Homo sapiens: one gene and its partner. The protein of the gene in region 1 purifies or fractionates together with the protein of each later gene. This does not show direct contact. Each region holds a gene or a part of one and is shown on either strand. Other genes may lie near its edges.

Region 1 (5,276 bases):
GGTCTCCTTTTGGAAAGATGAAATGTTCTGGAACTAGACAGAGGTGGTGGTTGCACAATATTGTGAATGTACCAAATGTTACCAAACTGTACACTTCAAAATGGTTAATTTTACGTTATGCGAATTTTGTCTCAATTAAGAAAAAACAGGATAGGTTTGCTGTGCTGACCACGGGCCCCCTCCCGAGCGGGGAGTGAAATGATGGTAGAGCCATTTCCGCCGTCCTCAGGGCCGGCCCCACCCCGGCCCGGCTCACCTGCCGCGCAATGTTCTGCACCAGCTTGTCCATGGTGAAGCCCACGTAGGCATGGATGGTGAACATCTCGCGTAGGGTGTCCTCGTACTGCGTGGGGTCGATGCTGCCCTCCAGCAGGCTCCGCACCATGTCCAGGAAGGCCGGGTAGTACTCCTCCAGCTCCACTTCACCTGCGGAGACACACCGCCTCATCCATATGCCTCCTGGAGAGCGCAAAGTCACGCAGGCCAAACTCTGGCATGACAGAGCCCCAACAAATGCCCCCATGGGGCCCAACAGCCCTCACCTGCCACCCCTGGGGCAAATGTGGGAATCACCAGGAAACCCGAGTAGCTGGTGTTCACTGCCACCCTCCGAGGCTGCCTAATCTGGCCGGCAACCCAGGGATGGCAGCGAGAATGCTGTGGAGGCCAGGCATGGTGGCCCATGCCTGTAATCCCAGCACTTGGGGAGGCTGAGGCAGGCGGATCACCTGAGTTCAGGAGTTTGAGACCAGGTTGGCCAACATGGTGAAATCCTGTCTCTATTAAAAATACAAAAAATTGGGCTGGGCGCGGTGGCTCATGCCTGTAATCCCATCACTTTGGAAGCCCGAGGCAGGTGGATCACAAGGTCAGGAGTTTTAAGACCAGCCTGGTCAAGATGGTGAAACCTCGTCTCCACTAAAAATACAAAAAAAAAATAACCGGACATGGTGGTGGGTGCCTGTAATCCCAGCTACTCAGAGGCTGAGGCAGAGAATTGCTTGAACCTGGGAGGCGGAGGCTGCAGTGAGCCGAGATCATGCCACTGTGCTCCAGGCTGGGCAATAGAGCAAGACTCCATTTCAAAAAAGAAATACAAAAAATGAGCCAGGCATGGTGGTGAGCGCCTGTAATCCCAGCTACTTGGGAGGCTAAGGCAGGAGAATCACTTGAACCTGGGAAGTGGAGGTTGCAGTGGGCCGAGATCCTGCCACTATACTCCAGCCTGCGCAACAGCGCAAGACTCCATCTCAAAAAAAAAAAAAAAGAAAGAAAAAGGGTACTGTGGAGCTGGGCCATGACGGCTCCACGAGAAAGCCCATGAGAAACAAATGTTCCCCAGTCAGGAGAGGGTGCTACACCCAGGACAGGTGCCACGGCCAGGGGAGCCTGGGCGAGGGGTACGTGAGACCTCTGTCTTATGCTGGCAACTTCCTGTTTGCAATTTCCCATTTGAAATCACAGAATTCTCTTAAAATGAAAAGCCAGAAAGAAAAGTAACAGGACATGTCAGATCATGAGCTGTGACCCCTAACCCCAGGCACCCCCCGGGGCCTCCCGGCAGGCTTTGGAGCCTTACTGGGCTGCTTCAGCCGCAGCTCCATGGCGGGGTCGCTGCCCTTCTCCCTGCGGCCCTCACACAGCAGCTTCTCCCGCTCCTTCTCGGTCCGATACTCCAGAAGCTGCTTCTGCGCCTGGCGGTAGATCTTCAGCAGCCTGGAGCACAGGGTCTGGTGCAGGCGCAGGAAGAAGTACCAGTTGTTGTTGGCAAAAAATAGGCTGTAGACATCGTCCAGGGGCTTGTGCGGGGCTGGGGGCGGCAGGGGTGGCTGCTCAGTGGCCGGGGCATCCCCGAAGGCCCCCTTCTCCTCTGGGGGGCTACTGTGGGGTCCTGGCGCCGGCTTCTTCCGCTCACTGGGGTCTGTGGTCTGCCCCTGGGGGCTGTCCCGGTCCTCATCAGCTGACTCCTCGGAGGCGCCCAGGTCCAGCTGCTGAGAGAAGAAGAGGCTGGGCACGAACTGGTGCAGCAGCTGGTGGATGGTGCCCTGGTCCTCCTTCTGGATGGCCGGCTGCCGCTTCACGTAGTAGCTGATGAGCGCTGCTGCGTCCTCCAGGATCTGCCGGTCCTCGTACACAAAGATGAGGTGCGGCTCGCTAGAGGGGGCACTGCGGCCCTCCGAGTGCTGCTCCTGGTGCTGTGGGGGGAAGGGCGGCCATTAGGTGGAAAGCCACCCAGCACCCAGAGGACCCCCAGTGCCCATTCACGACTCGCTGTTAACTGGGCCACCAAGGTGGATGAGCGCTGCCCAGAGCAGGATGGGTGGCGAACATCGGTGAGGCAGCAGGGCCTGGGGGGTAGGTCGCTTGCCTCAACCTCTTGTGCAGCCCCATGTGCTCCTGGTCCCCTCTCCGAAAGTGAGGCAGACCCAAGTCATCCCGGGACCCCAGACAAAGGAGCCAAGAGGATTCTGAGATGTGGGGCGGGGTTCACAGGGGGTCTGACAGCGTCAAGCCTGGGTCTGTCGCTCAGCCCAGCTCCAGGACAGAACGGGGCCCCGTGGCTCAGCATGGAGAAGCCTCTGAGGCTGACCTCCTCCTACTGAAAGCAACGGTGGCGCCTGATTCCAGCTCGACCGGGGCTGCCCACACCATGCTATCGATGAAGTCAAGGAGGCAAAGGGTGAGCCGTGACCTCTCTGCCTCTGCCCTCCATCTACTACCCGGAAGGCCTGCAACTGCTCACATCTGAAGACCTGCACGCCCATCGTCACCAAGCCCCCGCCTCCGCTGCTGTCCCCGCCAGCCCCTGCACGTGCTTGCTACCACCATCATGTCACCAGCCCTCCCACCAGCTCCCACCAGCCTGCTCCAACCACTCTCCTCACTGGGTCCAGGGTGACTTGGCCCACAGGAGCATGGTCACCCCAACTAATGCCCTTCAGGCTTTCCCAGGCTGCTCAGAAGACGCCGGCCCCTGATGTGCCCCTCCACAGCTCCTCCAGCCTCACCGCGCCAAGCTCCCTCCTGCGTGTGCAGGGCCTTTGCACATGCCCATCTGCTCTCACTCCCTGGAAAACCCTGTCCCAGGCTCACCCCTCCCCTTGGTCTTTATCTAGATCATGACTTTCATTCCCTCACACCATTAGACAATCACCCCTTCCTCCAGCCTCCCACACCACTGTCCTGGCACCCAGGGCCTCTGCTGGGCAGCCCCAACCCCCTCAGTCCAAGGCAGGGAGGCAGACGCAGCAGGGCTCTTGGGGAAAATGAGCGTGGATGCCATCTCTGCAGGCTCCCGAGGGAAGGACCGGGTCTCCTAGCAGCCTGAGGTTTCCCTTCCTCCTCCCCTGCAAGGCGGCTTAGAGGCTGGTAGGGCCAAGCACACTGACCTGGTTCCTAGGAGTCTGCACGCTCAGCCCTGCTCTGGGCTCTTCAGTGTGACCATCGCCCTCTGACTGCTTCCTAAGTCCCCCAGGTCTCATTTATGCCATAAACACTCTGAAAATTCCTTTACAGTCCCCTCTGAAGCAGGGTCCCCATGTCCATGATCTGTAACCATGCTTTGTAAATCACGTGATGGAATGGGGTTCTGACTTTGGAATTCATCAAGGACCTGCATGTGCAGAGATCTGCATATGAACCTTGGTGCCCCTCCCTTTGTCAGCCCCAGCCCCAGGGAGGGATCCAGGAACTCAGGGTCGCATTGGTGGATTTCCAGGGCTACTTCATCATCTGCACTTTGCAGACACCACAGACCCACAGAACCTATACGGGGTCTTGGGCTTGAGGATCGCCGAGGACTAGAGTGAGGAAGCCAGAGTGGTTGTGGGTGGGCCTGGGGCGAGGGTGGCCCACGGGAAGGGAGGTGGGAGGGAAGGGGGTCCCCACAGTCCCACAGGCTCTGGGAGAGGCCTTGGGCCAGCAGCCCGGCTCCTGTGGATTCCGTTTCTGTGTTGTAAAAGAAGGAGCGACCGCTCACTGTGCAGTGACAGGAGCAAGAAACCAAATCAGGTGAGGCAACACCCCCTGCCCAGGTGGGCACCAGGCTGATAACGCAGCCCGTGCCATGATCTGGGCACTGCCTGGGGAGTAGTGTGCCCTCCTAAGCCACCTCCTCAGAGTGTCCAAGGACCTTCCCGACAGCTGGCTATCACCACGCCCGGCACCCTGCCAAGCTTCCCACCTCAGGATCCTGCAAGCAGGCACTCCCTACACACAGCTACTAACAGGCCCAGCTCCTGGCAACCTGAGGGCCCCGCTGGCCTTGGTTCTATGACTCAGGCCTTGTGAGCCTGCAGTGAGGACATGCAGCCGAAAGCCTCGAACCCAATGACTCAGAGCCCTGGCCCCCTGCGACCAGCCCAGGCAAATGCAACCTCTTGTGCCTCAGTTTCCCCACTGGTAAAATCAGAATAATGCCGCAGCAGAGTCAGGTTCAGGAGTGAGGTCAGATGATGCATTACTCTTTCTGTGTTGCTAACACCGGTGCCTGGCACAGTCGGCAAGAAAGAAATGAAGGCTGCTGCCACCCACTACCTAAGCCAAAGTCCATCACTGCCCCACGGGAGGGACGGAGACTTCGCTAGACAATGGCAGAGTCGGCCAGGAGCGGTGGCTTACGCATGTAATCCCAGCACTTTGGGAGGCTGAGGTGGGTGGATCACGAGGTCAGGAGTTCAAGACCAGCCTGGCCAACATGGTGAAAACCCATCTCTACTAAAAATATAAAAATTAGCTGGGTGTGGTGGTGTGCGCCTGTAGTCCCAGCCACTCAGGAGGCTGAGGCAGAAGAATCACTTGAACCCAGGAGGCTGAGGTTACAGTGAGCTGAGATCACACCACTGCACTCCAGCCTGTGTAACACAGCGAGACTCTGTCTCCAAACAAACAAACAGATAGACAATGGCAGAGTTGCTGGTTCTCCTAGGGCAGGCCACAGGCTGGGCATCACAGAGACATGAACCCTCGCCTCAACACAGCCCTGAAAGGGCAATGCCACTACCCTGCCTAACCACCAGGGAAACAGAGGCACAGACCCGGCGGTCGGGAGAGCCAGGACCCCACCCCCACCGGCCGGCAGGGCTAGGGAAGGCTTTACCTCGTCGTAGACGCTCTCGATCTCGTTGAGCAAGCTCTTGGAGCGCAGGGCCTTGGTGTCGTTCTGCTTGAAGTTCACAGCCTGGTGGTCAAGGGACTTGAGGTACGCCTTCTCATACTGCTCCCGCCAGATCTTGTTGAAGCCCTGCTGGGCCTCCCGCCACTCCTCTTCCTTGGCC
Region 2 (5,276 bases), on another chromosome or scaffold:
CTACTATATAATTTTTCTTCTTGTTCTGAAGTTAGGAATTTTCTGTGTGTTTGTTTTATAAAGACCCGCTTCCTTTGCCAGCCTGCTTAGATACTGGTCTTTCTTTCCTATTGTTCCTAACATTATTACAGCCCAGATATTAAATATTCAGACTATGTGTCTCAAGGGGCTTGTGGCTCTGTACTTGCATCTCACACTCTTAAGAACCTTAGGAACCACAAAACAGAACTTTGCAGCCAGAAAGAACCTGAGAGAGATCACCAACTCCAGAGGACTTTTTAAAAAATAATATATTCAATATCTATGAACCCATACCTAACCCATAAGAAAGGGAACTAAGTCCTTTTTCGGCCTCTTAAAACTGCTTTCGGTTTTATCTCTGAGCAAGATATATACTTCTTTTTATAAATGTCTGCTTAAAGCTATTTTTTTATTGTATCCTATCTGATATGTCACTTAATGAGACAACTTTTATGAATACTATACATCAAAACCTTAAAATGTTTATACTCCTTAACCCAGTAATTCTACTTCTAGGAATCCTACGGAAATAATCTGAGAGGTGCACAAAAACTAAATTACAAGAGTCTTATAGTGGCATTATTTACACTACACATCGGGCAATCCAAATGAACAGCAATAAGAGAGAAGTTGAATAAAATTATGGTACCGCCCAAGGATTATTATGCAATAATTAATTATGTTCGGAAAATGTCTTAATTACATGGAACATATGTATGAATGTAAATAAATCAGAATGCCAAATTATATATACAATATGATTTCAACTATACAAAATAAGTACATCCAGAAGAAAAAGACTAAAATGAAATATGCCAAAATGTTAGCTGTGGTTACTTCTAAGTAGCAGAATTATAACTTAATTTTAATTATTCATTTTTTTCCAAATTTTCTATACTCCTTAAAAGTGTCTATTTTTTAGTAATTAAAACATATCTGGTATCGGCTGGGTGCAGTGGCTCACACCTGTAATCCCAGCACTTTGGGAGACCGAGGCAGATGGATCACCTGAAGTCAGGAGTTTGAGAACAGCCTGACCAACATGGTGAAACCCCATCTCTACTAAAAATACAAAATTAGCCAGGCGTGGTGGTGGGCGCCTGTAATCCCAGCTACCTGGGAGGCTGGGGGAGGAGAACCGCTTGAACCCGGGAGGTGGAGGTTGCAGTAAGCAATGATCACGCCATTGCACTCCAGCCTGGACAACAAGAGCAAAACTCCATCTCAAAAAAAAATTATATATATATATTAAAAAAAGTAAGTATATATTATATATATTTATATATTATATATTATATATATAATACATATATCTGATATCAGCACAAATTCATCACTAAAGATCAGATCCTTCATGTTTAGACAGGCTGAAGCCAAGAGCTGCTTGGGGCAAATAATCCTGGTCCTTCCATTGTCCAATTAACCAAGCTCCTCCCCCTCTGAGCTGACAACAGTCTTCAAACTAGAATACCTAAATATAAGGAGCTACAGACCCTTGCTTTAAGGGATCCTCTGCCACACACCTAACAGTTGCTCAACCAGGGATGAGTACTTATGCGACTGACTACCAACTATACTAGACGCCATAGGGCACGTATCATCATGTGGCTCTTCTGGATAATAGTGATTACAAGTATGGTTTCAGAGTCACATAAATATGAGTATCATTGAGTTATATGGATTTAGAACTTTCCCTGCCCTCTCTTAAATCGCATTTTATTAATTTGGTCTTAAAATACAAATATGGGGCCAGGCACAGTGGCTCACGCCTGTAATCCCAGCACTTTGGGAGGCCAAGGCGGGAGGATCACGAGGTCAGGAGATCGAGACCATCGTGAAACCCCGTCTCTACTAAAAAAATACAAAAAATTAGCTGGGCGCGGTGGCGGGCGCCTGTAGTCCCAGCTACTCGGGAGGCTGAGGCAGGAGAATGGCATGAACCCAGAAGGAGGAGATTGCAGTGAGCCGAGATCATGCCACTGCACTCCAGCCTGGGCGACAGAGCGAGACTCCGTCTCAAAAAAAAAAAAGCCTTCATGTATTCCCCCTTTAGCTGATGAATTAGCATCTTATATGCCTTACTTTTTCCTGTTCAGTTATTTTATTTACACATTTATAACTCCTTCACTGATTTCCAAAGCCCCACCATGCACTGTACTGTATCAAGATTCAACATTACTCTTTATTCGTTCCTTATTCCACCTATGCACTTTTTGATTGTTCACAAGTCAAAATATTGATAATCATTCACACATGCATATATTCAGGCAGTCATTTACATATTGTTTGGTTTGTATACCCCACCTTATTCCCAAAAGGATTTCAGGTAGCCTACAATGAAAACATGGAACATAAATTAATGGCAAAATAGAAATAAAGAGACGACAAGGAAAGTAAGAAAGACAAGTAGATAAAGAATAGGAAAAGACAGAAGGACACACAGGGCAGACCATTAAAGGTTACATAAGGCCAGGGTGGGGGTGGCTCACACCTGTAATCCCAGCACTCTGGGAGGCCGAAGCAGGTGGATCACAAGGTCAGGAGTTCAAGACCAGCCTGGCCAAAACGGTGAAACCCCATCTCTACTAAAAATACAAAAAAATTAGCCGGACGTGGTGGCAGGCGCCTGTAACCCCAGCTATTCAGGAGACTGAGACAGAGAATTGCTTGAACCTGGGAGGTGGAGGTGGCAGTGAGCTGAGATCGTGCCACTGCACTCCAGTCTGGGTGACAGAGCGAGACTCCATCTCAAAAAATTTTAAAAAAAAAGTTACATAAAGGCATCATTTGGGCATCCATCTTGACTCTGTGCTTCCTGGAAGCCAAAATGCAAACAAAAACAAAAGTACAGAGAAGGTTTTTGGACCATTTGAGGAAAGCTCAGTAAGAGTTTTATGGCCTGTGAAAGTCTGTGTTCTAGCGGTGACTTAACGAAACAATTCTAGCTGGGTGCTGTGGCTCACACCTGTAATCCCAACACTTCGGGAGGTCGAGGTGGGAGGACTGCTTGAGCCCAGGAGTTCAAAATCAGTGTGGGTGACGTGGCGAGACCTGTCTCTACTAAAAATAAAAATAAAAATTAGCCCAGTGTGGTGGGCACGTGCCTGGAGTCGCAGCTACTCAGGAGGCTGAGGCAGGAGGATCGCTTGAACCCAGGAAGTCGAGGGTACAGTGAGCCGAGATTGCACCACTGCACTCAAGCCTGGAAACACAAAGAGATCCTCTCTCAAAAAAATAATAATAATTCTAAGACTACAAAATACCTTTTACATGATAACAACTTTTAAAAAGCCTCCAGGCATCAGGGGGGCAGGTAAGCTCAGGTTTTTCAAATTTACATAAAAATCATTGATAACTGAGAATGTGTTTTTAGCTACCAATTCCTTACCATTTCATCAGCCAAAATGCCATTGACTCCATTTTCATATAAAGAGATCAACCAATTCAGTCCTCGAATCTGATAATCTCTCAGTGGCCCCCCTTTCACATCTGGTGAAAAAATGCAAGGACATTTCATACTTTCATTAACATACTCAAGTAAAATTTTTCTAAAACTAAATTGAAAAAGAACTCACCAATGTGATGAAGTACTTACATGAAGGTGACACCTCAAATCTAATACACACATTAGATGTTTTCCGACTCTCAGACAGTAGCTCTTCATCTTCTTCTTGCTCTGTGCGCCTATGGCGGTAGCTGAAATTAAAAAAGGAAATCCCTTCATATTCGACCTAAATGATAAGGTATCAATTAAATCAGTGTACATGGCTATTATCTTTTATAGAAAAAGAATGAGTTGTCCAAGGTCTTGCTTAGAAATCAGTAGAACCAGCCTACATTTTTACTGATCAGCCTCTAGTGAGAAAAAAATATAGTTGTCTTCAAAACATAATTATAATGGCAATATTTTTTGTCACATGAAGGTATACTGAACAATGAAGAGCGAAGGGGTGCATGAAGGGATCAAGGGAGGACAGGAGGAAGAAAAGGTAGGAGAAAGGAAAGAAAGTAGAGAGAGAGGTGCCAACATACTCTCCAGCAGAAATTAAGCTCTGCTTTTCATCTTTCTTTATTCGGGGACGTCCCAATTTCATGTTCAGTGGAGATGTTGGAGATTTCTGTGCTGAAGGCTGAATGAAATGTGCAAAAAGTTCTGTCTGCTTCAGTAAAAATTCAAATCTCTTTGCTCGGTCGGCTTTCTAATTTGCAAAACAAAAGAAAAGTAAGGACTTTCCTTTTCATTCCTTCAAAGTTATTTAACAAATACTTACTTTGAACAACATTCTTAGCACTTGAAACATTAATCCATTCAATTCTCTTAAGAAACCTATGACGTAATTACAAGTATCATCTCCATTGTAACTACATGATACTGAAGCACAGAGAGGGTAAGTAATTTGCCCAACCTTGCACAGCTAATAAGCAGCAGAATTTGAAAATGTATTTTCAAATAGTTTGAAGGGAAGAAAAATTATCTGACAGACAGTAAATTCCCCAATAAGAAATACCCTTCTTAAAGAGTCATAATCATAAAGCAAATCCTCTTTCCAAAACATCATTTTATTAAATAAAATAGTAACAAAATTAAGCATCAAATATATAACATATCCCAAATATTGAAATATAAATTAACTATGATATATATACCATAAACTGAACTCTTAAGAATTTCCAAGTTGTATCCAGAAATAACTTAAATCTTAAAATACAGTATCATCTTGTCTCAAAATATTTTCAGTGTCATGGTATAGTAATGTAATAAACACTCCTCTCTTCACTCACAGGGATCTAGAAAACTGTATTTTGTGCTAGTAGCGTATAAACTTTCTCCCCAAAGTAAGCAGAATTTGGGAAAAATATATAAACATATGCACATATATGTGAAATAGTTTATTAACTATTAAAAGTTGATATGTATTCTAATTTCTCAATAAATTGTAAAAGGTCAGGGAACGTGTACCATATACAGGCAATAAAACTTTGTTTCACTAAAAAAATCTTAAAAGATCAAAAGATATATACATCATTCTAGATAAAGGAAAAAATAAAGACTATTTATTTATTCAAAGTCACTTTCCAACCACAGAGTAGAGAATACTTGATTGCTAATGAAGGATGCATAATTAATAACCCAGAAAACTTACAGAAGAGTTCATTAACATAAACATAAGAGTTAGATAAATTCAGACTACAAGCTGGAAGGAGGCCAAAAACTTTCCATTTTATATTATCCTCACTGGAATGTTATTTTTAGA

Evidence for each region. Proteins that work in one complex are often made in the same cells at the same time.
Region 2: the proteins of SIN3B (region 1) and SMARCA1 purify together in Homo sapiens (affinity purification with mass spectrometry, with the first as the bait; one large-scale study listed by BioGRID). This does not show direct contact.

Annotation. Positions count from the first base shown.
Region 1 is NC_000019.10:16,866,379-16,871,654, reverse strand, and holds part of SIN3B (paired amphipathic helix protein Sin3b), read right to left. Parts: coding exon 5,099-5,276; intron 2,196-5,098; coding exon 1,580-2,195; intron 427-1,579; coding exon 257-426; intron 1-256.
Region 2 is NC_000023.11:129,512,278-129,517,553, forward strand, and holds part of SMARCA1 (SWI/SNF-related matrix-associated actin-dependent regulator of chromatin subfamily A member 1), read right to left. Parts: intron 4,221-5,276; coding exon 4,054-4,220; intron 3,718-4,053; coding exon 3,617-3,717; intron 3,511-3,616; coding exon 3,410-3,510; intron 1-3,409.